Linked DNA regions of Homo sapiens: region 1 is linked to region 2. The links come from fine-mapping of genetic effects on gene expression. A gene starts in region 2. The other region holds a variant in brackets. All regions are shown on one strand. Distances are from middle to middle.

Region 1 (14,764 bases), 150 kb after region 2:
GCAGCAGCACAAATCCCAGGATTCTCAAAGCAGTTCCAACCACAACAAACCAAAAACTAAACTACAGCGAAATGGGAAACAGGTGTGTCCGGTTTAATAAAAAGGGAAAGGGTCATCAGGTGGCCACAGCCTTTCCTTGTCAGTCATATCCCCAACCTCCAGATCCTTTATACTCTCATAAGTTTGAATACAGTCAAGGTTAGTTGGGTCAAAAACTGATGTTGATTATGATTAAAAAGATACAAAACTCAGCACCTCCTTCATTAAAAATAAAGGTTGAGAAACTTGATAAGAAAAAAACTAAAATATTCTTATAGCTGCCTGGGGGAGATCTTAATCCTTCCACATACAGATATCCTTATATCCACAGGAGGCCATGTGGACTAAAACCAAACTGAGTCCATTACTCATTCCCTCTCCGGCTCTTCTTGTGGCTCTTCTTAGACCTGAAATGGCAACACATATAAATAATTATATTAAGAAGCAGCCAGGCACGGTGGCTCACGCCTGTAATCCCAGCACTTTGGGATGCCAAGGTAGGCAGATCACCTGAGGTCAGGAATTCGAGACCAGCCTGGCCAACATGGTGAAACCCTGTCTCTACTAAAAGTACAAAAATTAGCCGAGCATGGCGGCGGGCACCTGTAATCCCAGCTACTCAGGAGGCTGGGACAGGAGAATTGCTTGAACCCGGGAGGTGGAGGTTGCTGTGAGCCGAGATTGGGCCATTGCACTCCAGCCTCAATGACAGAGTGAGACTCCATCTCAAAAAAAAAAAAGGAGTCCTGAGAAAGACCTTGGTATGCTGACATTGATGGGGATGGAGCTGACACTCAATATTCATTAAACTGCTTGGTATTTTTTTGACTCAGAGCAACACTCTTGAGTCAGGCATTACTATCCAAATTTTACCATTGAGGAAATGACCTCTTAGAGGTTAAGAGTACACCAAACAGGCCCGGCGCGGTGGCTCATGCCTGTAATCCCAGCACTTTGGGAGACCGAGGTGGGCGGATCACAAGGTCAGATTGAGACCATCCTGGCTAAAATGGTGAAACCCCGTCTCTACTAAAAATATAAAAAATTAGCCAAGGGTGGTGGCGGGCACCTGTATTCCCAGCTACTCGAGAAGCTGAGGCAGGAGAATGGCGTGAGCCCAGGAGGTGGAGCTTGCAGTGAGCCGAGATTGCGCCACTGCACTCCAGCCTGGGAGACAGAGCGAGACTCCGTCTCAAAAAAAAAAAAAAAAAAAAAAAAAAAAGAGTGCACCCAACGGTATATGGCACATGGGGGTTTCTAATGAAATCTTATCAAATGAAAGTGACTTGTCCAAGGTCACTCAACTGTTAAGTTTTAAAACTTGGGACTAAACCCCATGTTTTCTGAGACCAAAGCTCATCCATTGTCCAAAGCTGCAATCCTGTAAAGCAAAACAGGTATCAGCTTGAACCCGGGAGGCAGAGGCTGCAGTGAGCCAGGTTCACGCCACTGCACTCCAGCTTGGGAGACAAGCACGAAACTCAGTTCTCAAAAAAGAGAAAAAAGAAAAAGTTATCTAACCCCAGTAATTCTCAAAGCAATAGACCAATTTTGTCTTGTAATGCAGGAGAATTCCTAACATCCCCCAACAAAACAAGAAAATTTCAGGTCCAGTTAGTTGTAATTTGGACTATTTCTGTAAAGTTAAAATAGAGGTCAATTCATTACCTTTCGGGAGACTTTGAGTGGCTCCTGTGTCTGTGACTACGGTGATGACCTGGGGAAGAAAAGGCCATTGCATAAGATCCTACCCTTCTACTCTTATTAAACTGTCATTCTCACCTCCCCTAATACCTGCCATTGGCTTAATATTCTTTTGGCCTATGCAGGGGACACCTCTTAGTGGAAGCAACTCTGAATTAGTGGAGGAAGAGGGAGCAAAGAAAGTAGTAATGAAACCAGTTCAAATACATATACATTCAAGGGCTTTATGACTAATTTCACAAACATCATATTGGGTTTTCACTATTATGTTAGATCTTATTCCTCCAATTTTAGATGAAAAAACTAAAGCAAACCTTATCAGCAAAGCTTATAAGTGACAGTCAAGCTGTGAACCTTAATTTTCAAATTCTATGTCCATTTGCTTTTCTGTTAGGCAGTACAGTCAGGCACTCCTGTACTGCAGGAGGCTAACTACTCCTTTTACATTTCTTTGTTAAGACAACCTGTGGCAAAAGGCCCACAAGCTTTACCTGGGGACTTGGAACGGGATCTGTGCCGCCGATCTCGGGACCTGCTGCGGTGACGTCTTGGACTCTTGCTCCGATGCCTTTCTCGGCGAGGGGAGGGGCTGTAGAAAAGACTGGTCAGACTACCAGATCTGGTTAGCAATATACATATAACACCAATACCACCACCCCCTCCCCAAAGCCCTATCCTTCATCACAAATGACTGAAGGCCTACCTTCTCCTTTTGGGAGATCGACTCCGCCTATAAAGAGGAGAGGAAGAAGAAAGCCTAGGTTGGCGCACTGGATGTGGTAGATTGCAAAAACGGCCCCAATCTTATCCTTCACGCTTCTCTGTATCACCCACCTCTGTATCCATGTCTTTTGTCACGTAACTCTAGCACCCTCCCATTCTAACTTTAGGACTGGTGACATGACTCGCTTTGGCTAATGAGATATTTGCAAATGTGATAAAAGCAGATACTGGAAAAACATTTGCATGACCGGGTTTGTTTGCTCTTGAGTTCTGCCACTACCATGAGAATATGCCCAACTTAGCCTGCTAGAGGATGACACAGAGAAGAGAAATTTCCCCCGTCATCCAAGCTAAGGCAATTCCATACCAGCCAGTAGACAGCCGACAACAGAACAGGTACTTTAAAAACTGCCTATCCAAGCTCTGCTTAAATCATTGACTGCAGACTTGTGAAAGGAACAAATGGTTATTGTTGTCTGCCAATGAGGTTTTATAGGTGGTTGTTTTGCAGCAACAGATAACTAATATATTGGGCAAACATTCTCCATAGACGTGCATTTTTCCTTCTCTAAAATCCAAACTTCTAGGCTACAGTGCTCAAAATCTTCTGGGAAAAGGCCAATGACTAGGCTTTACCTTCTGGGAGACCGGCTCCTACTCCTCCTGTAGCGCAGTGTGGGAGAGCGACGGGGCTTGTCCAAGTCTCGGTAGCTTCTCCGGCGGTGATCAGGTGATGGCACTCTTTCCAACTGGAAACAAGATGATTGGGTCATTGAAAGGCACAGGCTTATAAAGAGCCATCTAGGAACACTAATTATACTTCACGCCCCATCTTGTCCCAAAGTCCATCTCCATGTGACTTTAAAGCACAGTAACCTGACTACAAAGAGGGAAGCACTTACCCTATTAACTAACAAAACTTATTATGAGCTATATAAGACAGCCAAAATGACTCATAGGAGAGGGAACAGAAACAGACCTGTGTGTGTGTATGTGTGTATGTTTAGTTTATCTGCAGCCTGGGCAACATGGTGAAATCCCATCTCTACAAAAAAAATACACAAATTAGCCAGGTATGCTGGCACGTGCCTGTAGTTCCAGCTACTTGGGAGGCTGAGATGGGAAGACTGCTTGAGCCTGGGAGGCCGAGAATGCAGTGAGCCACTGCACCTCAGCCTGGGCAACAGAGCAAGACCCTATCTCAAAAAAAAAAAAAGTTTGCTTCCTGGAACAACTGGGCAGCTTGGTTGTTTTCAACTTTTCAGCACCGTAACTAGTACTGAAAGAACATGACTATGCGGTTGACATTTTCCCCCTCCTAAACAAGGTTTATTCCTTAGGATAGGTGCAATTATGAAAGTGTTCTTTCTTTCCAAGTATTTAATAGCTGCCACCATTTATTAGGCAATTATAATGTGCCAATACTCTGCTAAGGGCTTTAAGTTTATAATCTTATTTAATACTTTTAACAGTCTTGGGGAAAAAAGTATCATTAACCTCACTTTACATAGGAGAAAACTAAATTTAAGTAATTTGCGTAAGATTATACTACTAGTATATGGCAGAGCTGAGGTGCTTTTAATAAGGAAATATTGTTTTTGGCTAGAGTTAGAAAAAAAATTTTTTTTGAGACGGAGTCTCACTTTTGCCCAAGCTGGAGTGCAGTGTTGCGATCTTGGCTCACTGCAACCTCTGCCTCCCGGGTTCAAGCAATTCTGCTGCCTCAGCCTCCTGGGTAGCTAGGATTACAGGCACCCACCACAACGCTGGCTAATTTTTGTATTTTTAGTAGAGACGAGGTTTCACCACCACGTTGGCCAGGCTGGTCTTGAACTCCTGACCGCTGGTCATCCACTCGCCTTGGCCTCCCAAAGTGCTATGATTACAGGCTTGAGCGACCACGCCCGGCCAATAGAGTTAAAAATTAAAGTCTAAAAACAAAAAACCATTCCCATTTTCTATTACTCCCTCCCCTACAACCATAAAAGTCTCAGGTGCCAGACCTTCTCATCCTCCTCTTCTTCCTCTTCACTGGACTCCACATCATCCATGTCCTCTTCCAGAGCACTAACTCGAGGCTCCAGTTGCTCAGCTTCCTCTAATACATAGCGTTTCTACAGAGAAAATGATGAGAGTTAGGGGTTGTTGCCATTTCCCCTATTTCTTGAAACCTCAACACTGGGCTTCAGGGTTCCAAGGAGCAACAGCTGAGGCAATTTCATTTCAAAGACAGTTCAAGATTTTCCTAACAAGTTTAATAGACCTGAAATCTATAAAGTTCTCCTATAAACATAAATACAAACCTGAAGAGAACATCTTCATTTTCTATTGACTCTATTCCCTGTACCTTATACTCTAAAGTCATGGGAATATCAATCAGTATAGGTACAGCCTAGAACCAAAAGTAAGGGCTTCACACACAGAGAAAATCCAAGGGCTAATAAGTTCATGGCTGGTAGTTCCACTAGAAGAGGCCTAGCCCTAGAGTAGTACCAAATCTCCAGTAGACCCAGGATCTCGGGAGCTGTTGATATTCATGCATTTTGAACTGGTTCCATTTTAATCTGGGATATGGCTTAGCAATGTTTATTTGAGTGGCTAAGGATCAGAGAGGCAAAGCTGATTTCAAAAATGCCAAATGGCTAAATGTAGTGGCATGTACCCGTGGTCCCAGCTCCTTGGGAGACTGAGGTAGGAAGATCCCTTGAGCCCAGGAGTTTAAGAACAGCCTGGGCAACACAGCAAGACATTGTCTTGCTATAAGAATTGGGCCCTCAAAGTAGGTTTTCAAATTTATAATCTCATTCTTTCCACTACATGCCCTACAGTGCCAACATGGAACAGGAGAGCTGTATCACACTCATTTCCTGAAAAGATGCCTCATGGATAATCGTTTATCACTAGGAAAGGGAAGCAGGATGGTGAAGGCAAGTTTAAGGAATTAATGGCTCAGTCTCCCACTCCTGGCCCTATTTTTATCTGTTTTATGTCCTGGCTTTTTACATGAAGATTAGTTTAAAAAAAACGTTCATGAAGTTAAAAACTCCCTACCTACTCTAGCTACAATACCCTTGATGTAACATCCTGAATAAATTTCTTTTTTCATGATAGACAGGTAATGTGCTGACTTTGTAACAAGGTTTGAGGGAGGCACAACTCACACATGCACCTGAACTACAAAAGGATGGAGAAAAACAAAGTTTCCTTGTTTTAAACCATTCACTTTTAAAGCCCTACCCTTCAAATATTTTATCTATTTTCCTCTCACTCCCAATCCACTATCTTGGGACTCCCAGACAGGAAGACTATTCATTAAGAGGACCCATAAGATCCACAGGCTTCAGTGTTTAAGCTGTGTGTATGTGTTTGTCTGTCTGCCCGTCTAGGAAGAGAAGGGTGACTCTGGTAACAGACTTTTATTTCTTACCTGTAGTCGGGGCAGAATGATATCACAGACTCTCTCACTGTGCAATAGTTCATCAATAAACTCATCAACATGCATCAATTCAAACTCTGCAAGAAAAAGTCATTAGAGCAAACAACCTGGAAATAAAAGATTTAGATGCCAAAAAGTAAAAGAAGTGTTAAGACTTCATATCAGGACATCTATGTGCTAGGCCTCTTTAGAAGAGATTAAGGGATGAATGAAGATGTCCCAATTAGCAGGAGACAAACACAAAAACAAGCACAAACAGTCCTGAATTATGTAGGGATGATCTTGAAGAGATCATATAACTTAAATATAATTTCTCATCTGAACCTTCAATGTTTCTGAATTTAGAACATGTATCTTATATGGCACATGGAGTGATAGCTTTTGAGAACTGGCTAGGAGTGGTGGCTCACGCCTGTAATCCCAGCACTTTGGGAGGCCAAGGCAGGCAGATCACTTGAGGTTAGGAGTTCAAGACAGGCCTGGCCAACATGGCGAAACCCCATCTCTACTAAAAACACAAAAATTAGCTGGGCATGGTGGTGGGCACATGTAATCCCAGCTACTCAAGAGGCTGAGGCAGGAGAATTATTTGAACCTGGGAGGCAGAGGTTGCAGTGACCTGAGACCACACCACTGCACTCCAGCCTGGGCAACAGAGTGAGACTCCATCTCAAAAAAAAAAAAATTATATGTCTATATATATGTGTGTGTGTGTGTATATATATATATACATCTATATATATATAAAAGTATCATTAACCTCACTTTACATAGGAGAAAACTAAATTTAAGTAATTTGCGTAAGATTATACTACTAGTATATGGCAGAGCTGAGGTGTTTTTAATAAGGAAATATTGTTTTTGGCTAGAGTTAGAAAAAAAATTTTTTTTTGAGACGGAGTCTCACTTTTGCCCAGGCTGGAGTGCAGTGGTGCAATCTTGGCTCACTGCAACCTCCGCCTCCCGGGTTCAAGCAATTCTGCTGCCTCAGCCTCCTGGGTAGCTGGGATTACAGGCAATTTATATTATATATAAATTATGTTATATATAAATTATGTTATATATAAATTATATATGATTATGTATATTTATATATTTGTATGTAAATATAATTATAAAATGTATATATATGTGTGTGTATATACACATATACAAATACATATATATACATACATACATATACATATATAGCTTTTGAGAACTTCCATGGTAAACATTACCTTACTTCTGGGGTTCTCAACCATGGGCAATTTTGCACATGCCCATCCCCCTACTTAGAAGGAGGTGTTACTTCCATCTAGTGGGTAGAGGCTAGAGATACTGCTACTCATTCTATGATGCACAAGCCAATCCTCACACAAAAGTTATATGACCCAAAATGTCAATAGGTTCAGAAATTCTTAGTTTTACGTAATAAAATAATAAATAAATAACTCCATCATGGCCATGACCATGTCCATCTTGTTCACCATGGTATTTACACCACATAGCACAGTATGTGACATGTCAATGGCACTTAATATGTATTTATTCAATGAATGAATCAATAAGTTTAAAGTATAATACCAAATTCTATTTTTTTAAGATGGAGTCTTGCTCTGTCGCCCAGGCTGGAATACAGCGGCGTGATCTCGGCTCACTACAATCTCCGCCTCCTGGTTCAAGGGATTCTCCTGCCTCAGCCTCCTGAGTAGCTGGGATTACAGGTGTGCACCTCCACACCCTGCTAATTACTGTAGTTTTAGTAGATATAGGGTTTCACCATACTGACGAGGCTGGTCTCAAACTCCTGACCTCAAGTGATCTGCCCATGTTGGCCTCCTAAAGTGCTGGGATTAGAGGTGTGAGACACCGTGCTTGGCCCCAAATTCTTAACCTTCTACTGTTTAATGATACATGTAGGGGGAAAGGTAAATGTTCCTATCTTCTGTTATGACACCAAGTGAGAAAAGGTTTTGACTGCATTACCTGGAATCCCTCCTTAGCACATTAAGTAATCTCCTTGTAGAAGGTATGGAGCTGCCTCTCTTGGATATACTTATTTTTCAGTGGGATTCCTGTATAAAAATGAGTAGTCTTATATGCTGCAGTGTGAATTACAGTGTTAGAGGAGAGGCCAGTAGAAAGAACTGTGAAGATGTAAAATATGGAAAACTAATTTTGTCTGAGAGGGCTGGGGAAGGTTTTTATGGAGAAGCCATTCTGCAGCTAGATCTTTTGGGATGGAGCACATGTAAAGGGGGCATATGATGCAAGGCAGGGATTAACATAAGATGCACTTGGAAAGGGAGACAGACAGAGGCAGGCTGGGTAAGGCCAACACGAAGCTAGTAGTCAGACTGAAAACTCCCATGAGGGACAAGGGAAAACCTGCATAGAGACAGTAACAATGTAGATGAAAAGGAGCATTCACACTGTCTATGACAATGCAAAGGTAGAAGTACTGGTAAAATAAAAACTGGCTTAAAAATGACAATCAGGAGACTTAGCACCATACTTACCCCCATTTCGGTTCTGGCTCTTGATTTTTCGATAGTCATTGTACAAAGGTTCCAAGTACTTGTAGCAATCAATTGCAGTGCCTGTCAGCCTCATGTAAAGTGCCCCCAGCATGCGGACATACCTGAGAGACAGATGACAGTGAAACAACAGGCCATCCTAGAAGTTCCTGAGTTTTACAACTAGCTGTTCTCATGACAGTAGTGGATAAACATGTTCTTCTCTTTGGCAGGTAAGAAAGCTGCAATTGTGGAGGTAGAATGCAGCAGAAGAAAGACAGCTAAAATATGGAGACCTGAGTTCAAGTTCCCATGCTACCATTTATGGCTGTGGGAACATCATACATATTGATCAACTTTCAAATATATCATCAGTAAAACTAGAATAAAACCTATTTACCTCACAGGATTACTCTAAGAATCAAAAGAAATACTGAATTTTATTTTATTTTTTAAGGCAGAGTCTTGCTCTGTTGCCCAGGCTGCAGTGCAGTGGCACGATCTTGGCTCACTGCAACCTCCGCCTCCTGGGATCAAGCAATTCTCATGCCTCAGCCTCCATGTAGCGAGGATTACAGGCGCCCGCCACCATGCCCAGCTAATTTTTGTATTTTTATTTATGTATTTATTTATTTCTTGAGACAGAATCTTGCTCTGTTGCCCAGGCTGGAGTGCAGTGGCACGATCTCAATTCACTGCAGCCTCCACCTCCTGGGTTCAAGCGATTCTCCTGCCTCAGCCTCCCAAGTAGCTGGGATTATAGGCATGTGCCAACACACCCAGCCTAATTTTTGTATTTTTAGTAGGGACCGGTTTTGCCATGTTGGCCAGGCTAGTCTCAAACTCCTGACCTCAGGTGATCTGCCTGCCTTGGCCTCCCAAAGTGCTGGGATTACAGGTGTTAGCAACCATGCCTGGCATATTTTTGTATTTTTAGTAGAGACGGGGTTTCCCCATGTTGGCCAGGCTGGTCTTGAACTCCTGACCTCAAGCAATCCACCTGCCTTGGCCTCCCAAAGTGCTGGGATTACAGGTGTGAGCCACCACACCTGGCCATATATTGAATTTTAAAACAGAAAGAAGATATATTTAATAACAATACAAGAACAAGTACACATAAACATGACTGCTGGTTTTGGAAAAAAGTAAGTCATCTGGGTTCAAATTCTGACTCCGTAATTTACTAAGTCTGTGACACTACTGGTCAAATCATGTGTTTTCTCAATCCTTGTAAAACGGAGATAATGCTACCTAATTTATGGCTTGGTATATAAACAAGAAATGCATTGAAAGTGCTAAGTATAGCACAGAGCACACAGTAAGTGCCTAACAAAAGTTAGGTATTTTCTAGCTGTTAATGCTTTATTAGAGTCGTTCCAGCCAGGGGCGGTGGCTCACGCCTCTAATCCCAGCACTTTGGGAGGCGAGGCAGGTGGGTCACCGGGTCAGGAGATCGGGACCATCCTGGCTAACGCGGTGAAATGCCGTCTCTAGTAAAAATACAAAAAATTAGCCGGGTGTAGTGGTGGGCGCCTGTAGTCCCAGCTACTTGGGAGGCTGAGGCAGGAGAATGGCATGAACCCAGGAGGCCGAGCTTGCAGTGAGCCGAGACTGCGCCACTGCACTCCAGCCTGGGCAACAGAGCGAGACTCTGTCTCAAACAAAAAAAAGAGTTGTTCCTCTTCCCTTTTTCCTATATCTAACTACTTAAATTTCCTCTTGGGTAACTAGGAGGCTTTTGAAAGTCATAGTTTCTTTGTACGAGAAGCAGAATACTGTAGCAAAGAATATGAACTCTGAAGCCAGATTTGCCACTTACTAGCTGTTTGAACTTGGGCAAAATTAATTAATCTCTGTGCCTCAGTTTCCTCTCCTGTAGAATAGGGATTAAAAGTTTAGAAGGTTGTTGTGAAAGTGAAATGAATTATTATATGCAAAGCCCTTACAGCATGGCACATAAGAAGCTATTATGTCTGTCTCCTATACTTGTTTGTGATTTCCTCGAGAATCGGTAATACGGTAATAAGCTGACATTTTCTAGGTGTTTACCATGCAGCAAGTGCTGTGTTCAGAGATCTGCATGCATTACGTTCTTTCACTCTTATATTATAGTCACCATTTTACAGATAAGCAAAGTTTAGAAAATTAAGTAACC[TC/C]TCCAATGTCATAGTTAATGGGCAACAGAATCTGGATGTGAACCCAGATCTTACACCTCTTAACCACCACCTTTTGTTGTTTGATTTTCACCCCTGAGCGTCCAGTGCCTACCAACATATCAGGCACTCACTTTTGCTTAATATGTATTTAGTGAATCTGTGAAATCCTTTTTCAGGGAAAAATTACCAAAACTGAGAAAGTAAAGTAGAAGATTAATACAATCAGAACAGATAAAATACAAACTTGGCAGGGTGTGGTGGCTCATGCCTGTAATCCCAGCACTCTGGGAGGCCCGGGGGGGGAGGGGATTACCTGAAGTCTGGAGTTCGAGACCAGCCTGGCCAACATGGTGAAACCCCATCTCTACTAAAAATACAAAAATTAGCCAGGCGTGATGGCACATGCCTGTAATCCCAGCTACTCGGGAGGCTGAGACAGGAGAATCACTTGAACCCAGGAAATGGGGGTTGCAGTGGGCCGAGATCGCACCACTGCACTCCAGCCTGGGCAACACAGAGAGACTCTGTTTCCAAAACAAAAAACAAACAAAAAATACAAACTCAAGGGCTCAAAAGCAAAAATCTGGAGTGGAACTCTCTAGAAATGAGATACATTGTGTACACCCCTCTTAACCAAAGCCCAATTCTAAACCGCCAAAATTAAACCTCTTATATTAGCTAGTGAACATTGCACTCACTTGAAATCTTCATTTTTGATAAACTCTACAATGATATCCTTCTCGGGTTGAATTTGAAGCATCTTCAAGGTTAAACACAGAAAGGGTGTTGGTTTTATGTTGCCACCATAGACGCCACCCACAAACCTTAACTCCATGGCTTTATCGACTACAAGTTCAGCTAAAAAACAAAAACAATACAGTAACATATTAGGGCTAAGCTCTTCCTAGTTGGAGTGGAGTTAGTTCAAGCTTTGGTTCTCCTAAATATACATCAACAGTGTAATATTAGGAGAACGAATGTGTATTAATAACAGTAACGACAACAGCTAATATACATTGAGAATGGATAATAAAATAGGTACCCTGCTAAGCTTTTCATATTATCTCACTTAACCTTTTTTAACAAGTCATGAAGAAAGTTCTAGCAATGTTCTTATTTCCAGGTAAGGAAAATGAGGGCTAAGAAAGGTAAAGTGACTTGCTCAAGGTCCACAGATTGTCACAGGACATGGATTTAAAGCCACAATTCAAATCGGAAGATTACCTGGAAGACTTCTCTGAAGCACTGATATTTATAAATACTGGAACCGGCCCAGATCTAAGAATAGTAAGATCATGAATTTGGTTTCAGGCATATTAACGTTAGGTCCTTAAAGACCTTCAACAGATTGTGTCAAAGTGTTATATCCGGATCCCTGAGCTTAACACTGTTGCAACCCAGCCTGCTATCATTAAATACGGAATAACTCACAACACCCAACTGAGACAGCCTTCAGAATATGACCTTACCAGATTCATCTGTGCCTCTAATACTCAACACAAGACGAGGCACTTAGCAGGCACTCAAAATTTTTCTGAATGATCGACATACTCCGTTCCAGTACCACCCCCAGAGGCCAGTCGCTAGTCCTACCCGCGCTCGGTCAGGAGAAATGGGCCACAAGGGGGCTGAGAGGCGCTCCGCGCGCTTCCACTTACCTGTAAGTCCAAAGCACTCCTCTTTCCAGTACTTGGACTCATAGATTCGCGTTCGAATGATCTTCTCCACCAGATATTGAGGGTTGGTGCCATGGATGCTGTGCGCATCCTTCACTGTACGGTTAGCCATTTTAGAATGCCTTCAATTCTATTTCCGTCGGATCCTTTAATGCCTCACATCCAGGTTCAGAAAAAGCACCTAGAGGAATGGAGAAAGGTGGAAGAAGTTTCACTAAACAGCTTAGGCGACCATCTTGAAGCCGGAAACACCGTAGTGTAAAGGGCTTCCGCTCCCCGCGTCGCCTATCGAATCAATGATGGCGGCTGCATGTTAGCGGATGTACGTCATGCGCCCCTCTTAGGTGTACGGAGTGGGCGGGGCGAGCTAGTTGGTGTCGCAACGAAGGGACGGTCTGGGGGCGGGGCCACGCCGATTGGCGCGAAGTTTTCTTTTCTCCTTCCACCTTCTTTTCATTTCTAGTGAGACACACGCTTTGGTCCTGGCTTTCGGCCCGTAGTTGTAGAAGGAGCCCTGCTGGTGCAGGTTAGAGGTGCCGCATCCCCCGGAGCTCTCGAAGTGGAGGCGGTAGGAAACGGAGGGCTTGCGGCTAGCCGGAGGAAGCTTTGGAGCCGGGTGAGTGTGGCGTCCAGCGGGCTGCGAGGGACTCGGGGGAGGGCGCATCGGAACCTCTGAAACTGAGGACGTTCTCTGTAGACTCAGTCATTGATTCTTTTAGCTGACATGTACCAAGCGCCTGTTCAGTGCCAGGCACTGTTCTGAACTGTTAAGAGCGTTCCTCTGTTCCACACTCCGATTCCTAAAAGGCTTCCCGCGCTGCAGGGAACTGAGTTTGCAGGGGGGAAGGCGGAAGCCAACAGCCTAGAAGCAGGAGCATTCCTGCCCTCCGCACCCTGATGCTCAGTGATGACTTTCCCTCCATCTGCATTTGTAAAGCACTCTACTTGTTTCGTTCTTTGAGCTATAGTGTAGGAACCACTACAGGGAAGGCGGAGCAGAGGTTATTACCCCATTTTACGGACGTAAATTGCGCCCAGGGAGGGACGTGTCTTAGGTCGCTTTTCGTGACTAAGCAGTCTGGGCTCCTACCCAGATCTTTTTTTCAGATGAGCTCCTAACTGCTGGGCTGTCTGTCATTCACCTTCTTTTCAGAAGAGAAGTCTGGTGGCCCCCTTCCTACTTCTCTTTTCTAACCCCGGAATTGAAGAGTCTTCTGCTGTGACAGTTGGAAAAGGCATTCTTATCCTGATCTATTTGTGAAACTGCAATGATTATATACGATTCTAGTTGTCTGTAACACATGAATAATAGTACCCTCGTCTCTGCTGTGTTAGGTGGGCTGGAAATGCCAAAGGAGTTTCCAATATGACAGAATGGTTTAAGTCCCTTTGCAACAGTTTTTAACTTTAATGGAGGGCAATATGTGGACTTTAGGAGGTTTGTGAATCTGCCGAAATTGAATGCAAAATTTTGCTTGAATTATGTTAGTTCCATAGTATTCATCAAATGATACTTAATAAATAAAACCACTGTACCTTACAAATAAATGCAAGGGATTAAGGTAGTGGGAAAGTGGATTTACCATTTTGCATTTTTTCACTTAATCTTCCATTATCCTAAAATAGTGCCTGGCACACGATGGGTACTTAATAAATATTGGTTGAATAAACGGAAGATTCTATTTTCTCCATTTTGTGGGTAAGCAAATTGAGGCCCAATCCACAATGTTCAGTCAGTGGCTGGGAAGCCTGATTTATTGTAATAAGTACACCAAAAGCAAGCTCTCAGTTACATATTAACATTATCCAGTTTCACACAGTGTGTTGTAAGGTGAAGTAGTTAAGAGCACAGTAATTGCAGTCTGGCTTTTCCGGGTTTGAGTTAAGGCTGTGCCATCCTGTATAAGATAGGATAAGTTATCACCTTGAAGTGATAATAACATCTACTTTTCTTTTTTTTATTTTGAGACAGAGTTCTGCTCTGTCACCCAGACTAGAGTGCAGTGTTGCGATCTCGGCTCACTGCAGCCTCCACCTCCCGGGTTCAAGTGATTTGCCTGCCACCATGCCCACCTGATTTTTGTATTTTTAGTAGAGACGGGGTTTCACCATGTTGGCCAGGCTGGTCCCGAACTCCTGACCTCAGGTGATCCACCCACCTCAGCCTCTCAAAATGCTGGGATTACAGGCGTGAGCCACTGCGCCCAGCCTTTGTATTTCTGTTTTATCCTTGTGTGCATTTTATAAGCGTCATGAAGACATTTACAACCCCTGTATCACTGTCTTTTAATTTCACTTTGTTAGATGTTTTACACCTATTGTTCTGCCTTATTCCTAGTATTTCTAAATGTTACAGTTTCATTTCTTAGGAATTGACCTTTCTGTTTTCCTGGATGGAAAGAGATACGGCATAGTACAAGATGGACACAGATGATACTAAATTGCCTGTGTGTAATCTTCGTAGACCATGACTTCAAATAAAATGTTTTCTTAGTCTAAAATGTATGGGAGTGTAGCAGGGGCAGAAAATAA
Region 2 (15,586 bases):
TAATTTTTGTGGGTACATAGTAGGGGTATATATTTATGAGTTACATGAAATATTTCGATACAGGCATGCAATGTGTAATAATCTCACAGGGTAAATGGGGTATCTATCACCTCAAGCATTTATCCTTTGTGTTACAAACAATCCCATTTTACTTTTAGTTATTTTTAAATGTACAATTAAATTATTTTGACTATAGTCACCCTGTTGTGCTAGCAAATACTAGGTCTTAGCCATTCTTTCTATGTTTTTGTATATATGAATCCTCTCCACTTCCGTGGCCCTTTCTATAGCACTCCTGAACTTTTCCACCTTTGTATCTTTGCTCTTTGCTTCCTTCTTTTTTCCCCCCCTTGAGACAGGGTCTCACTTTGTGGCCCAGACTGAAGTGTAGTGGTGCAATCATAGCTCACTGTAATGAACTCCTAGGCTCAAGTGATCCTCCCGCCTCAGCCTCTGGAGTAGCTTAAACTACAGGGGTGTGCCACTACACCCGGCTAATTTTTTCAATTTGTATTTAGAGACTGGGTCTCACTATGTTGCCCAAGCTGGTCTCAAACTCCTAGGCTCAAGCAATCCTCTCACCTTGGCTTCCCAAAGTGTTGGGATTACAGGCAGGACCACTGTGCCCGGCCTGCTTGCTCATTTTGACACATACTTCTGACTTGGTTTTTATTTAAATTTTGTCTTGCTCCTGCCAAAATAAGTTTACTGACTACTTTTGTCTCTCCAGATCTGACCTAGACCATTGTACTCTCCTATCAGCATAGGCCAGCTGCCTCATCTTGAAGAGCTGTTAAAATAAAAAGAAAAAAGAGAATGGTAGGAAATCCAGTATACCAAATAGCACTATGGTGGGATTGTGGGTAGTTTATGTCATTTTTCTATAGGTTCAAAATTTTGCAATGTGGTTATGTTATTTTAAATAAAAATATTTGAAGTTTACTGAAGTCACTCATCAAGTGCTTTCATAGATAACTATTGAATTTTCTTCCCTTTCATGATTTCCAAGGATGAATATAAAACTGATATTCCTCTAGCCAACAAGATATGGGGTTTGAGATCCTATCTGGGTCAGAGAATCTGTTCTCCATCTTCCTCCCTTCAAAGCCAACTCTGCACTGCCCCCAGTTTACTTTCCAAAACAGAGATACAAGCATATATTTCCCCTACTTCAAAACTTTGAATGCTCCCCCAGTGTTTGCAGGATCAAGTCCAAGTGACTTAATATGGCTCCCAAGACCTTTTTTTTTTTTTTTTTTTTTTTTTTTGAGACGGAGTCTCACTCTGTTGCCGAGGCTGGAGTGCAATGGCGTGATCTCAGCTCACTGTACCTCCAACTCCTGGGTTCAAGTGATTCTCCTGCCTCAGCCTCCTGAGTAGCTGGGATTACAGGCGCCTACCACCACATCCGGCTAATTTTTGTATTTTCAGTAGAGACGGGGTTTCACCATTTTGGCCAGGCTGGTCTCAAACTCCTGACCTCAGGTCATCTGCCCACCTCAGCCTTCCAAAGTGCTAGGATTACAGGCGTGAGCCACGGCACCGGCCCTTTTACAATCTATTGTCATTCCATCTCTCCAACTTTATCTCCCAGTTGTCTGCAAACCACTTTTTCTTCCTCTCTGTATGTGATATCAGACTACTTGCCATTCCTTAAACATTTATTATATGTTTAACATATATTAACTATTAACATTTTTCACTTTTTTTTTTTAGATGAAGTCTCACTCTGTCGCCCAGGCTGGAGTGCAGTGGCATGATCTTGGCTCACTGCAACCTCTGGTTCCTGGGTTCAGGTGATTCTCCTGCCTCAGCCTCTCAAGTAGCTGAGACTACAGGCCTGCACCACCACGCCCGGCTAATTTTTGTATTTTTAGTAGAGACGGAGTTTCACTATGTTGGCCAGGCTGGTGTCAAACTCCTGACCTCAAGTGATCCACCTGCCTCAGCCTCTCAAAGTGCTGGGATTACAGGCATGAGCCACCATGTCCGGCCCATTTTTCACATTTTTATTGACATAAAACATTTGTACAGTGAGGAGTATAAAATTTAAGTGTATAACTCAGTGGATGTTCACATAAGTATACACGTGTGACCATGACTCAGTAAGATCTAGTTAATTTCCAATTCTCTAGAAGGCTCCCATATCTTTTCCTGTCCATATCTATACCTCCACAGAGATAACCACTATTCTGACTTCTACCAACAAAGATTAATTTTTCCTGTTCTTGAATTTCAAAAAATGGAAACACACCATACGTATTCATCAAAACACAGTACCTTTTTAATTTTCTCCTGCCTGAGAATAGGAGTGTTAAGTATTTGTCATGTGTCAATTCTCTCCTATTCTGCATCCATTGTAGACATTACTAATTCACTAATTTTTCTTGTTGTGCCTAGGTTGGGCTTTAGGCTCTTTTTCTAAACTGCACACCAGCAGCCACTACTAGTTGTTCAGAACTGAAACAACTAGTTGGTACTAGTGAAATCTCCCTGGAGGAGAATGACCTCTTCTACATGAAAACCTTCATCTCCACCACCCACAACACATTTAATAAATTATTTAAGTCTTAACTGATTCTATCACTAATATCTCTCTAATCTGCCCCTTTTCCCACTCCAACTGCTTCTTTTTTTGTTTGTTTGTTTTGAGTGCAGTGGCGCGATCTTGGCTCACTGCAACCTTTGTCTCCTGGGTTCAAGCGATTCTTGTGCCACAGCCTCCCGAGTAGCTGGGATTACAGGTGCACACCACCATGCCTGGCTAATTTTTTATTTTTAGTGGAGATGGGGTTTCACCATGTTGGCCAGGCTGGTCTCCAACTCCTGACCTCAAGTGATCCACCCACCTCGGCCTCCCAAAGTGCTGGGATTACAGGTGTGAGCCACCGTGCTGGCCTATTGCTCCTATTTATATAATCTCTCACCTGATTTTCTGCAGTAATCCCTTACTGTTTCCTCTGCTTTCAGTTTGGCTCTTCTATTCTTTTCCACACACTGCTGTTTCCTCTCCAGAAGAAAACAGCATATTTTAAATATCCAAATATAACTACATCATTATCCTGGGTAAGACCCTTGAAGGACTACCTTTCCAGTTAAGCATAAGTGCTTAGCATGGTATTACTGGCCTCATGATCTTGCCCCGCTCATCTCAGTACCATTTTCTATACCTTGCCCCTCCACCCCTAGATGCTAACTACCTGCAGGTTCCTGAATTGTGCCCTGCCCCTTTTCTCTTCTGTGTCTTGAATGCTGTTTGCTCTACCTGGCTAAGTCCACTCACCCTTCAAGACTCAAATGTCTTTTACTATCTTTTTTTTTTTTTTTGAGACAGGGTCTCACTCTGTCACCCAGGCTGGAGTCCAGTGGTACCATCTTGGCTCACTGCAGCCTGTCCTTCCTGGGCTCAAACGATCCTCCCACCTCAGCCTCCTGAGTAGCTGGGACCACAGGCACATGCCACTATGTGCCTGGCTAATTTTCTGTATTTTTAGTAGAGATGGGGTTTCGCCATGTTGCCCAGGCTGGTCTCGAACTCCTGGACTCAAGCGATCTGCCCGCCTTGGCCTCCCAAAGTGCTGGGATTACAGGTATGAGCCATCGCACCCGGCCCCAAATTTTTGTTGATCATTCTTTAGCTACTAAAGTTATTCTCTCCCCGGCAAAATCAATTATCTCTTATTTGTGTACTCATAATACTTTATACATATCCTTATTGTGGCAGTTATATTATTATCTGTTTATATTTCTGAGAGATCCTTGATGGGATAGAACTTTGTAGCTCCAGAACTCATCAGACTGCATAACATTTTCCTCTAATTTAAAAAATTGTGGTAAGGGCCAGGTGCAGTGGCTCATGCCTATAATCCCAGCACTTTGGGAGGCAGAGGCCAGAGGATTGCTTGAGCCCAGAAGTTCAAGACCAACTTGGGCAATATAGTGAGACCTTGTCTCCTATCCAAAAAATTAAAAAATTGAGGAGAGAAGATGGCTGGAGGCTGGGAGATCAAGGCTACAATGTGCTGTGATTGTGCCTCTGTCTGGATGACACAGCAATACCCTGCCTCAAAAAAAAAGTGGTAGAAATACACATAACATAAAATTTACTACGTTGGCCGGGTGCAGTGGCTAATGCCTATAATCCCAGCACTTTGAGAGGCCAAGGTAGGCGGATCACCTGAGGTCAGGAGTTCAAGACCAGCCTGGCCAACATGGTGAAACCCCATCTCTGCTAAAAATACAAAATTAGCCGGGTGTAGTGTCACGTGCCTGTAATCCCAGCTACTTAGGCAGGAGAATCACTTGAACCCAGGAGGCGGAGGTTGCAGTGAGCTGAGATCACGCCACTGCACTCCAGCTTAGGTGACAAGAGTGTAACTCTGTCTCAAAAAAAAAATTACTATATTAATCATTTTAAAGTGTACAGTTCAATGACGTCAAGTATATCCATATTGTTGTGCAACCATCACCATCATCCATCTCCAGGATTTTTTAAATGATTTTTTTTTAGAAGCAGGGTCTTGCTCTGTCATACAGGCTGGAGGACAGTGGCACAATCAGAGCTTACTGCAGCCCCAACTCCTGGGCTCAGGGGATCCATGTGCCTCAGCCTCCCGAGTAGCTGGGGCTACAGGTGCACGCCAGCGTGACTGGCTTATTTAAAAAAATTTTTTGTAGAGATGGGGTCTTACTATGTTGCCCAGACTGGTCTTGAACTCCTGGCCTCAAGAGACCCACCTGCGTCAGCCTCCCAAAGTGCTGGGATTATAGGCATGAGCCACTGCACCCAGCCCACTTTCTTCATCTGATAAAACTGAAACTCTATGCCAATTAAATGATAACTCCCTAGTCTTCCCCTCCCTACAGCCTCTGGCAACTACCATCCTACTTTCTGTGTCTATGATTTTGACTACTCTAATCACCTCATAAAAGTGGAATCATACAGTATATGTCTTTTTGTGATTGGCTTATTTCACTTACCGTAACATCCCCAATGTTCATCCATGTTGTGGTATATTGCAGAATTTCCTTCCTTTTTAAGGCTGAATAACATTCCATTGTATGGATATACCACATTTTGTTTATCCATTCATACACCAATGGACACTTGGGATTGTTTCCACATTTTAGCTATTGTGAATAATTCTCCTGTGAACACGGATGTACACATATCTCTTTGAGACCATGCTTTCAATTATCTTGGGTACACACCCAGAAGTGAAACTGCTGGATCCCATGGTAAGTCTTTTTTTTTTTTTTTTTTGCCCAGGCTGGAGTGCAGTGGTGCAATCTCAGCTCACTGCATCCTCCACCTCCCAGGTTCAAGTGATTCTCATGCCCCACCCTCCCAAGTAGCTGGGACTACAGTCACATGCCACACACCTGGCTAATTTTTGTATTATTAGTAGAGACAGGGTTTCACCATGTTGGCCAGGCTGGTCTCAAACTCCTGACCTCAAGTGATCTGCCTGCCTGTTTCGTCCTCTCAAAATGCTGGGATTACAGGTGTGAGCCACCACACCCAGCCGGTAATTCTATTTTTAATTTTTAGAGGAACCACTATACTGTTTTCCACAGTGACTGTATCATTTTACATTTCCACCATGAGGGTACAAAGGTTCCAATTTCTCCACATTCATAACAACTCTTGTTATTTTCTGTGTTTTGGTAGAGACGGGGTCTCCCTATCTTGCCCAGGCTGGTATTCAACTTTTTGTTTTAATAGCCATCCTAATGGGTGTGAAGTGGGATCTCATTGTAGTTTTGACTTACATTTCCTTTATGATTAGTGATGATATATCTTCTTTGGAGAAATATCTGTTCAAGTTATTTACACATTTTTCAATTTTTTTTGGTTGCTGAGTTACAAATATTTTCTCCCATCTTGCAGGTTGCCTTTTTACTCCGTTGATCATATCTTTGTTTTTTCTTTTCTTCTTTCCCTTCTCTCCCTTCCTGACTCTTGCTCTGTTGCCCAGTCTGATTCCTGGACTCAAGCCAGGAGTCCTCTCAACTCAGCCTCTTGAGTAGCGGTGACTACAGGTGTATACCAGTGCCCCCAGTTCTGATAGTGTCTTTTGACAAACAAATGTTTTACATTTTCATACAGTTTTTCTTTTGTTGCCTGTGCCTTTGGTGTCATATCCAAGAAATCATTGCCAAATCCAATGTTGTGAAGCTCTTGCCCTATGTTTTATTGTAAGAGTTTTATAGTTTTAGGTCTTATGATCCATTTGAGTTAATTTCTGTATATCGTCTAAGGTCAGGGCCCAAGTTCATTCTTTTGCATCTGGGTATTCCATTCTCCCAGCACCATTTACTGAAAAGACTGTCTCTTATCCATTGAATGGTCTTGGCATCCTTGCTGAAAATCATTTGACCATATATGTGAGGATTTATTTCTGGAGAGAGGGCATTACATTTTGTAGGGCACAAAGGTGCATCAGAGTGTAGACTGTTCTAATACATTTGAATTGGTCAGAGGGAGATTGTTTAGAATGGAGTTGGATCTCATTTTTGTTTCAAAGAAAAAGGAGAGAGATTTGACTTGGGGGGGGGGCGGTAAATTAGCTGACTTAAAGGGGGTTTGAGACCGGCCTGGGCAACATGGTGAGACCCCCACCTCTATAAAAAATAAAAAATTAGCCAGGCATGGTGGTGTGTGCCTGTAGTCCCAGCCACTCGGGGGGCTGAGGTAGGAGGATGGCTTGAGCCCAGGAGGTCAAGGGTGTAATAAACTGTGATCATCCCACTGCACTCCAGTTTGGGTGACAGAGTGAGATCCTGTCTCAAAAAAAATAAAAAAGAATTGGCCGGGTGGAGTGGCTTATACCTGTAATCCCAGCACTTTGGGAGGCTGAGGTGGGCAGATCACCTAAGGTCAAGAGTTTGAGACCAGCCTGGCCAACATGGTGAAAGCCTGTCTCTACTAAAAATACAAAAATTAGCTGGGCGTGGTGGCGTGCACCTGTAGTCCCAGCTACTCGGGAGACTGAGGCAGGAGAACCGCTTGAACCCGGGAGGCAGAGGTTGCAGTGAGCCAAGATCATGCCACTGCACTCCAGCCTAGGCAACAGAGTGAGATTCTGTCTCAAAAAAATAAAATAAAATAAAAAAGAATTACGGATTTTTAGACTCCTTTCCTGCCCTAGTTTATCTGGTTCACACCCTTTTCTTTCTTTTTACATTTAAGAGTCAGGGTCTCACTCTGTCACCCAGCCTGGAGTGCAGAGGCACATTCATAACTCACTGAAGCCTCCACCCCCGGGCTCAAGTGATTCTCCCAACTCGGTCTCTCAAGTAGCTAGGACTACAAACATGCACCACCATTCCTGGTTAAATTTTTAATTTAATTTAATTAATTTATTTTTTGAGACAGAGTCTCCCTCTGTCATCCAGGCTGGAGGGCAGTGGCATGATCTTGGACCACTGCAACCTCCACCTCCCAGGTTCAAGTGATTCTCCTGTCTCAGCCTCCTGAGTAGCTGGGACTACAGTCGTGTGCTATGCCCAGCTAACTTCTGTATTTTTTAGTAGAGATGGAATTTTAACCATGTTTGCCAGGCTGGTCTCGAACTCCTGATTGCCAAGTGATCCAACTGCTTTGGCCTCCCAAAGTGCTGTGATTACAGGTGTGAGCCATGGTGCCCAGCCAAATTTTATTTTTTTGAAGATGGGGTCTCACCATGTTGCCCAGGCTGGTCTCAAGCTCCTGGCCTTGATCCTCTTGCCTCAGCCTCCCAAATTGCTGGGATTACAGGTGTGAGCCATCATGCCTGGCTCCCTCATTTTTATGTATAAAGAAGGCTGATGTTATTCCTAAGGTCAGGATTACCAACAAATATGTATCACAGAAGGAAAAGTCCAGCTCTGTTGAGGAAGTACTTCTTTTTCCTGGAACAGGCAGATTTGGTAAGGAATGAGCTCTCTATAGCTATGAATGTACAAACAGAAGTCAGACGAACACCTGCTGTATAAGGCAAGTCTGAACATCTCTCTCCTTGTTTACAGATGTTCCATGATTGCCCATTAACTTCAGAATAAAAACTTGCTTTTTTAACAATGATGCGGTCCTAGTCTAACTTTATAGCATCATCTTCTGCCATGTATATATGTTCTTGATATCTCTAACTTTATGAACGCTAATGTCCTTTTAAATTCTAAAATCTTATTCACTTAAAAAAATGCCACCTTAAGAAAAACTGACTGTTTCTAATGTTTCAATGAAGTAAGCTGCAGGGTGTGGCTGTAGTTTAAAATTCCACGCATAGAATCCTCAGGACAGATGAAATGGAATCAACAGGTAGAAAGTACACACATGTGCTAGTGTGAGTCTAAGGGCACATGAAATCCAAATGGGGCAGATGAGAAGAAACTAAATTTTAAGAAGAAAGGGAATTCATTTGTGTGGAACATTTACTATGAAATAGGCATTTTTACACATTTTCATCTCATTGACTTTTAAGAATGCAAACAGACAAAGAGAAGTAAATCCTTTACACTATCTTGAGGTGAGCACACACCTCAAGAGCTTTGGTATTGTCATGATCTTTGCAAGAATCACAAAAATTTTAGACACTGACCATATCTTATGCTTTATAGACAATTTAGAGTGTCAACAAGCAATTTCTGAGTGCTTTCTATATGTGTCAGGATTATGCTGGGTGCTGAAAATACAAAGGTAAAGGAGACTTGGTTAGGACCACATCATGGGGGTGATGCACTGTTTTTCACTAGAGATCATTATCACCCAGGGCCTATAGTCTCTCTCCTTGGAGAAATCAAGTACACAGGAAAAAAAAAAATGGGGCTCAGAGAAACAGCTTAGCAGGTCTGATTGTATTTATCTCTGCTTACAAGTGATCAGTGATTCCCCAATAACTATAATATAAAGCCTGCTTTTTTTCCAGTGGCATACAGGGCCCTTTATGATCAAACAGCAAAACTTGGTTTGAACAGACTTAGGCACCTTTCTTTTTTCTTGAAATGGAGTCCTGTTCTGTCACCCAGACTGGAGTGCAGAGGCATGATCTCGGCTCACTGCAACCTCTGCCTCCCGGGTTCAAGCGATTCTCCTGCCTCAACCTCCTGAGTAGCTGGGATTACAGGCACCCACCACCATGCCTGGCTAATTTTTGTATTTTTAGTAGAGATGGGGTTTCACCATGTTGCCCAGGCTGGTCTTGAACTCCTGACCTCAAGTGATCTGCCCACCTCGGCCTCCCAAAGTGCTGGGACTAGGCACCTTTCTTGTTATAATTTTACTTACCAAGTCACCTTTTCATTCAATATTATTAGTTTTTTACTAAGTTTTCTTATTCACCTAGGAAGACAACAGAATATGAATATTGATCCACTGAGTAATTATATTCCTCATGAGATACAATGAAATAAGATTTTTACTGCAAGTTATTTTCACCTGGGTTTGGATGAAACTAAGTTTTCAGAACTTCCAGACTGGAGGCTTAACCACAATCATGAGATTTCCCTTGAAAGTTTAAGTCCTCAGAGGATTTTTACATAGAAATCAGACATTTACCATTTTATATCTCAAAAACCTGTGGTTCAATGGGAAGAATACAGGGCTGGTATTCTAGTCCAGCCTGTGACTTACTGTATGACCCTGGGCATGAATTAAACCTTATACTCCATAAATTTCCTTATTCTTTGTGTCAGAACCATACTTGCTCTAGCTGTGATGATAAAATTATAGTTGTCAAAATTTTCAACTCGACAACTATGTAGGTATCAGAAGGAATACCTTGTAAGTATCTGTGCTGAAGTGTACAATCTATTGGGGTCACGGAATTCAGAGAATAGAGGGATCACATTCAGTGGAGTGCAGAGGAGGGGTGGTAATCAGGAAGATTTAATAAAGAAGGTAGAGGTTGAGCTGGGTCTTGGGGAATAAGCAAGGTAGTAGAAGAGAGTATCTGGAGGGGATAAGGGCAGAGAGGCACTGAAATTTTCAGTCTGGCCCCAGTTTTCTTTTCCAGATTCATTATCTTCTGCACACTCCAGAGTCAATGCTGCCCTCTGAATCACAGACATGTGTCTGGCACACAGCAGACAGATCTTCAAGGTCCAGCTTTTAGTTCTTCCACGGAAGTCTCACCAAAGTGGAATTTATCACACTCTCCTCTGGATTTGCCCAGCCCTTTGTTAATAAGACCTGTTGCTTTTATTGTAGCTCACCTGCTTGCTCAATGGGGAACTTTTTGGAGACAGGAAGCAATGATTTGTCTTTGTTTCCCTAGGCACCTAACAACGCTTTGCTCTTAAGTAATTAGGAAATGTTTACTCAATTGAACTTGTTCTAAGGACACTGCTATCACTGAATTGAAGGGCATGTCGGTATCTTCTTAGTGTCTCTATAGGCTTTAGGCTTTCAGCCGGGTGAAGTAGGGATTTTTTCTTTGTTTCCAGGCTAGTCAAGCGAAGCAGGGATACAGATTAAGAATTTGCAGATGAGGAAACTCAAGAGGGTACATTTGCTCAAAGGCATCATGTTGATAAACGCCAAAACCAGGTAGGGCTCTTTTGACTTGAAATCCAGTCCTCTATCCATTATACCTGGGCCTTGTAGCATCAGCCAGATTGGGGTAAAATGCACTAACTCTGAACCCTAGTTTTTTCATCCGTAAATGAGAGCAACAGTACGTAACTCACAGGGCTATCGTGAAGTGGAGCGTCCCTCTGTGACCTCTAACCAGTCCCAGCCTGAGTCACATTATAAGAAAATTTATAAGGCACTATCTTGTAAATACTTAAGATTTAACATCTTCCCTTCACCTCTACGTCCACTCTTTTCATACCTTTTTCCTGCCTAGCATGTGTCAAACTCAAAGGACTGGGCACAGAGCACAGAGGTTGTGTGCTTTGTCCAGCTTTGAGGTCAGAGATTGGCTAAATAATCTCTGAGGCTGGGGTCTTAAAAAAAAACAACAAAAAACAAAACTAACAAAACCTTAAGTCCGTTCCGCCCGTGACTTTAAATAATTATGTAGAGGAATGTAATACGTTAAAAGCAAGGGGATGAGGGGGCCCATTGATGGTAGATGGTTTTATGCCCGCCTGCAGCTAAAGAAATGATTTCTAAAACCTCTTTTGGGGGTGGGAGATGGAGTGCTCCAGAGATTTCTCTTCGAGCTCCTTCATTCCTGAACTGCCTGCCTTTTCAAAGGAAAAAAGGTCCAGCTGCGGTGGGCTGGAGGCCGTGGTGAGTGGGTGGGGGTCGACCCTGGCGGCTTCCTCTGCCCCGCTCCCTACCGTTGCTCCGAAGCCCGCTTGGGCTTCCGAGGGTCCGCCGAGGCTCGGGCCACGCCCAGTCCGAGTGCCAGGCCAGAGGGTACCCATTCCAGGCCGGCCTTCCTCCCCAGGGGGAGCAGCCTTGGGAGCGAGGCGCCGAGGCGGCCCTCGGGCTCGGCTTCCAGCTCGGGGGCCTCGGCAGAGACTAGGAACCAGACTGGGGCAGCACTGGGGCGCCCGCCACCCCCACCCACTCCGGCAAGCGGGCGAATCAGCGCGGCTAACCCGCGGCGCCCAGGCGGGCTGCGGGACCTCGCGACCTCCGCTCGGCGGCCCCGCCCCTGCCCGCGAGCCCCGGGTGGCTCCCTCCTCCCCTCTGCCAGCGGCCCGCCCCCTCCTCGCGAGCTAACGAGTGTCTCTCGCGCGCTCCCTTCCCTCCGCGTGGGTGTGAGTGCGCGATCCTCCTACCTCGGCCTTCTCCCCATTGTTTCTTCGCGGCCACCACGAGACCCCTCCCCCCAGTGCTGTTTCCCCCCTCCCCCGCCCCGGTGTAAACGGTGCCTGTGGGGCCCCCCGAACGAAGGGAGGGGGCACCCCTGAACCCTTCCCTCTGCGCGTAGCTCCTCCTCTCCCGGGCCAGGACCCCATTACAGGCTCTGTCCTCTCCCCTCCCCCTCTCCCCCGGCAACCGCTCTCCCTCGCCCCCTCCCCTCAGCGGGTCCTCCTCTTTCTCTCCCTCTCCCTCTCCCTCCTCCTCCCCCTCCCCATCCCTTCCCCCCCACAATGCAGTTCGCGGCGCGGCGGACATGGCGGTGGAGTCCTGAGCTAGTCGTGTCCCGGCCTCCAGCGGCGGCAGCGGCGACGGCGGCGGCAGCAGGAGGCGGAGGGAGAGCAGGAGCCACTGAGATGAGGAGGCGTCGCGCGCGCCTGTAGCTCGCGGGCCTCGCAGGTACGAGGTTCCGGCCGCGGGGCAGCGTCGGGTACCGAGGGGGTGTGCTCGGGAAGGCCGGGCGGCCCCCGGTTCGCCCTCCCCAGGTGCCGCGCTTCGCAGGTGTCGGGGGCCTGGCCTGAGAGCGTCTCAGCCGCCCCCTGGGGGCCTGACACTTCTTTCTTTCCTGGAACGGGCTTCGGGTGTCCCAGGGGAAGGCTGAGATAAGGGAGGTGGGGACGGCGGCCTGGGCGGCCTGAGGAGGGCATTGGGGCGCTTTGGGGACGAACTCCACACTGTGGCTGGGGCTCCCGGTCCCGGACCGAAACCTGTTGTAGACCAGCGGGGCGGATTTTGAGTTAACGGGATTGGTTTGAACATTTCTGTTGGGTCCAGTTACGATTCCCTGTCATGTGTACCTTTTTCTTTCACCCTTGCTTAGACATAGGTGACTACATAATGTATATAAATGTATACACGCATATAATACATACTGAATGTTTCCCCGGGCTCGTCCTTGTAGGGAGAAGGCAGAGGTGTCTGTGTGGATTTTGTTTCTTGCTCGCCCGCCTTCTCTCTCCCCCGCCCCCCAGTCGAAAGGTGGTAATGCGCGGTTTTGACGTGGGTAACTGAGATTCGTATTTGTAAACAGATAGCGCTCTCCTAGTGTGTTGCACGCCTCTGCGAAGGGTTTCAGACTCCTGTTGGTATCTGGATTGCGAAAGAATGAGATGTTTAGACCTGAAAGAAGCACATCAGCGGGATTTCTAGTCGTACTTGAATGGGATGAATTACTGTTGTATTAACAACGTTGATTACACATTTTCTTTTCAGAAGATTTCGAAGTCTTAGATGAATTTTGCGTGAGATCTTAGATACCGTATATCTGCTTCTTCATTTTGATAGAAGTAGTAGTTCCTTACACATTTGACCTGCCCTATCGTGATCTTAAATTGTGTCCAGAAATGCAATTCGAATTGTGTATTGTTGGCATGCATTTAGTAATTAGCCCGAGTGGATCAGATGGCCTTTTATTTCCAAAGATTTTTTCCCTCCAGTCTTACAGCAGCGAAATGTTTGTAGCACTTGATGAAACAGAACATATCCTGTTTCTGTTTTTAAAGTAATGAGAACTGTTAGCTAATAAAATTGGATAATCCCAGCCAGATATGATAATTCAGAGAATACCACCGAGAGGTGTTGAATTGTGGGATGGTTTAAAAAGAAAAGCCGACTTTGTGTGTGTGTGTGTATGTGTGTGTGTGCGCGCGCGAGCGCGCTGAAATTTTCTTTAGGCTTAGAACTCATGTATGTCACTACACTGCATCGTAGTACTGATTAGTCACAACTGGTAAAATGAAATATTGATTCTCTTAAAAAGCTGTGCTTAAGATAACTCATTAGTGTCTAGTGTGCTATGTTGCTTTTATAAACAAATTTTTAAAGATTGCTTCTTAGAAACCATATACTTTGGGGAAGATAAGAATTTTAAGTCGTTTTATGCTTTAAAAATATTTATATTTAATATAAACAAAAGAAACTTACTTTTAAAACTCTTAGATAAATTTTTCTGCTGCTTGCAGTTTTTCACTTGGCTAGTGTGGAAAATGAAAAATGAAGTTTTCTTAAAATAATTCAGAAATGGAAGTGAAAGTTAATGACATTTGATGTTTTAAATCCAGCAAACATTTAAATACAGAAAAGAAATTTAAAGTATTTTCATTGTCATAGGCCAAGTTGTTAGTACAGATAAATTAACAAATATTGTCATGCATATAAGTTCAAGTTTATAAATTCTAAGTGACACCTAAAATTACATTTATTTTTAGTTGCTGGAGCTAGAACAGTACAGTGTCTACATTTTAATTTTAGACCTTTTAGAATCAAAATGTATAATTATAAATTTCTCTGATTAACAAAGAGCTGTTTAAAGAGAATTTTTATTAGCTCTCAGCAGATTCATTTTAGAGTAAGTAATTAGAATTCTTTTTTATCTCAAAGTTAATCTTGACATAAAAATAAGTACCATTAATTATGTTGTGTTCTCTACAGAATGTCAAATCAGGATCTGTTGATCAAGAAAGGTGTTTGAATTTATTCACTGTTAAAGTTTCTAGTTTCAGAGAAACAAAATAACCAACACTTACCTGTAGGGCCTGGCCAGGTGGCTCACTCACGCCTGTAATCTCAGCACTTTGGGAAGTGGAGGCGAGAGGATTGCTTGAGCGTAGGAGTTTGATATCAGTCTGAGCAGCATAGTGAGACTTTGTCACTGCCAAAAAATAAAAGAAATTAGCTGGGCGTGGTGGTGTGCGTCTGTAGTCCCAGAAGCTGAGGTAGGAGGTTTGCCTGAGCCCAGAGTTCAAGGTTGCAGTGAGGCACAGTTGCGCCACTGTACTCCAGCCTGGGCGACAGAGTAAGACCCTGTCTTAAACAAAAAAAAAAAAAAAAAAAAGCAATACTTACCTGTTAATGTTGATGCCAGAACATTTTGTTTGACAAAATAGAACTCAATGAGTTGTGTTCCTTTTTCAAATAAATTGCAAATACTTGAATTGATTAAAAAATGTTAAATTCAGTTAAAGCCACTGCAGTAGGATAGAAATACGTTCTAAAAAAGAACAATTCCAGAAAGACCTAAAAAAGTCAAAGGAAAGGGACACCATACTTTAAAACAGGATATGTAGACTTTTTGTTATTAATCTTAGAGCAATTAGAGTTGTTTACTGGGTACTAACTGAATTGTTTTAATTCTAGAATCCTAAATAATTACATAATTTGGGGGAAATGTTTAAAAACCATCATTTCTGCAGAGTATTTTTCTTTCCTTTTTTAAATCTTTATTTTATTATGTACAGACTATATTCAAATAAACCACACACTCTGAAAAAGCAGGTTCCGACTTTTCCTCCGGAGTATTTCTTACAGGCCCAAGGAGAAGAAAGGGTATATAAATGCAAAGATTAATGTTAGGATTTTTCCCCCTTAAGTGAGAGATTTGTGTGGTGTCTTATGTTCAAATTATTTTTATGTCACATCATCTCATTGGATATCTATAATTATGAGTTGAGGGAGAGAGAAGGGAACCAAAACTTTTTAGAGTGCCTGTTTTGTTCCAGGCACTGCGCTAGACACTGTTTATGCATTTTTTTTTCACTCGTTCAGTGTAACAGCCCTTTGAAACCTGTTTATAGGTGAGGAATCTTTGAGTCACAGAGGTTAGTGATTTGCTGAAGATCATAGAATTAGATTTCAAAGCAGATCTCTCTTCCTAATATAATGTATATGTGATGTTGCTTTTCAGGTGTATTATTTTCTCAATTATTTAGAATGGGAAACTGCCTAAGGTTGTTCATTCATTCATTTAAACATTCATTTCATCAAACATTTGCATTTGTATCAGTCTACATA

What was found.
Region 1: its variant is fine-mapped to the expression of TUT4 in esophagus muscle (GTEx, PIP above 0.99). The same link has a PIP of 0.9 or more in esophagus mucosa, gastroesophageal junction, pancreas, sigmoid colon, spleen and transverse colon.

What each region holds. Positions count from the first base shown.
Region 1 is chr1:52,402,330-52,417,093 of GRCh38, reverse strand. It overlaps ORC1 (origin recognition complex subunit 1), which reads left to right and starts at 12,671. Exons shown (of 17, transcript NM_004153.4): 1 at 12,671-12,848. PRPF38A (pre-mRNA processing factor 38A) reads right to left here and starts at 12,492. Exons shown (of 10, transcript NM_032864.4): 1 at 12,215-12,492; 2 at 11,255-11,414; 3 at 8,404-8,525; 4 at 5,894-5,979; 5 at 4,470-4,580; 6 at 3,103-3,215; 7 at 2,447-2,473; 8 at 2,235-2,332; 9 at 1,708-1,756; 10 at 1-446. The coding sequence starts at 12,344. The coding sequence ends at 404. It also overlaps the pseudogene LOC124904850. RefSeq lists a silencer at 1-237 and an enhancer at 11,973-13,172. The variant TC/C (reference allele first, on the strand shown) is at 10,556.
Region 2 is chr1:52,549,541-52,565,126 of GRCh38, reverse strand. TUT4 (terminal uridylyl transferase 4) reads left to right here and starts at 12,035. Exons shown (of 30, transcript NM_001009881.3): 1 at 12,035-12,196. LOC105378723 (a long non-coding RNA gene) reads right to left here. Exons shown (of 4, transcript XR_007066083.1): 2 at 14,323-14,447; 3 at 13,721-13,770; 4 at 12,290-12,886. RefSeq lists silencers at 11,333-11,732, 11,743-11,852, 11,893-12,022, 12,093-12,422.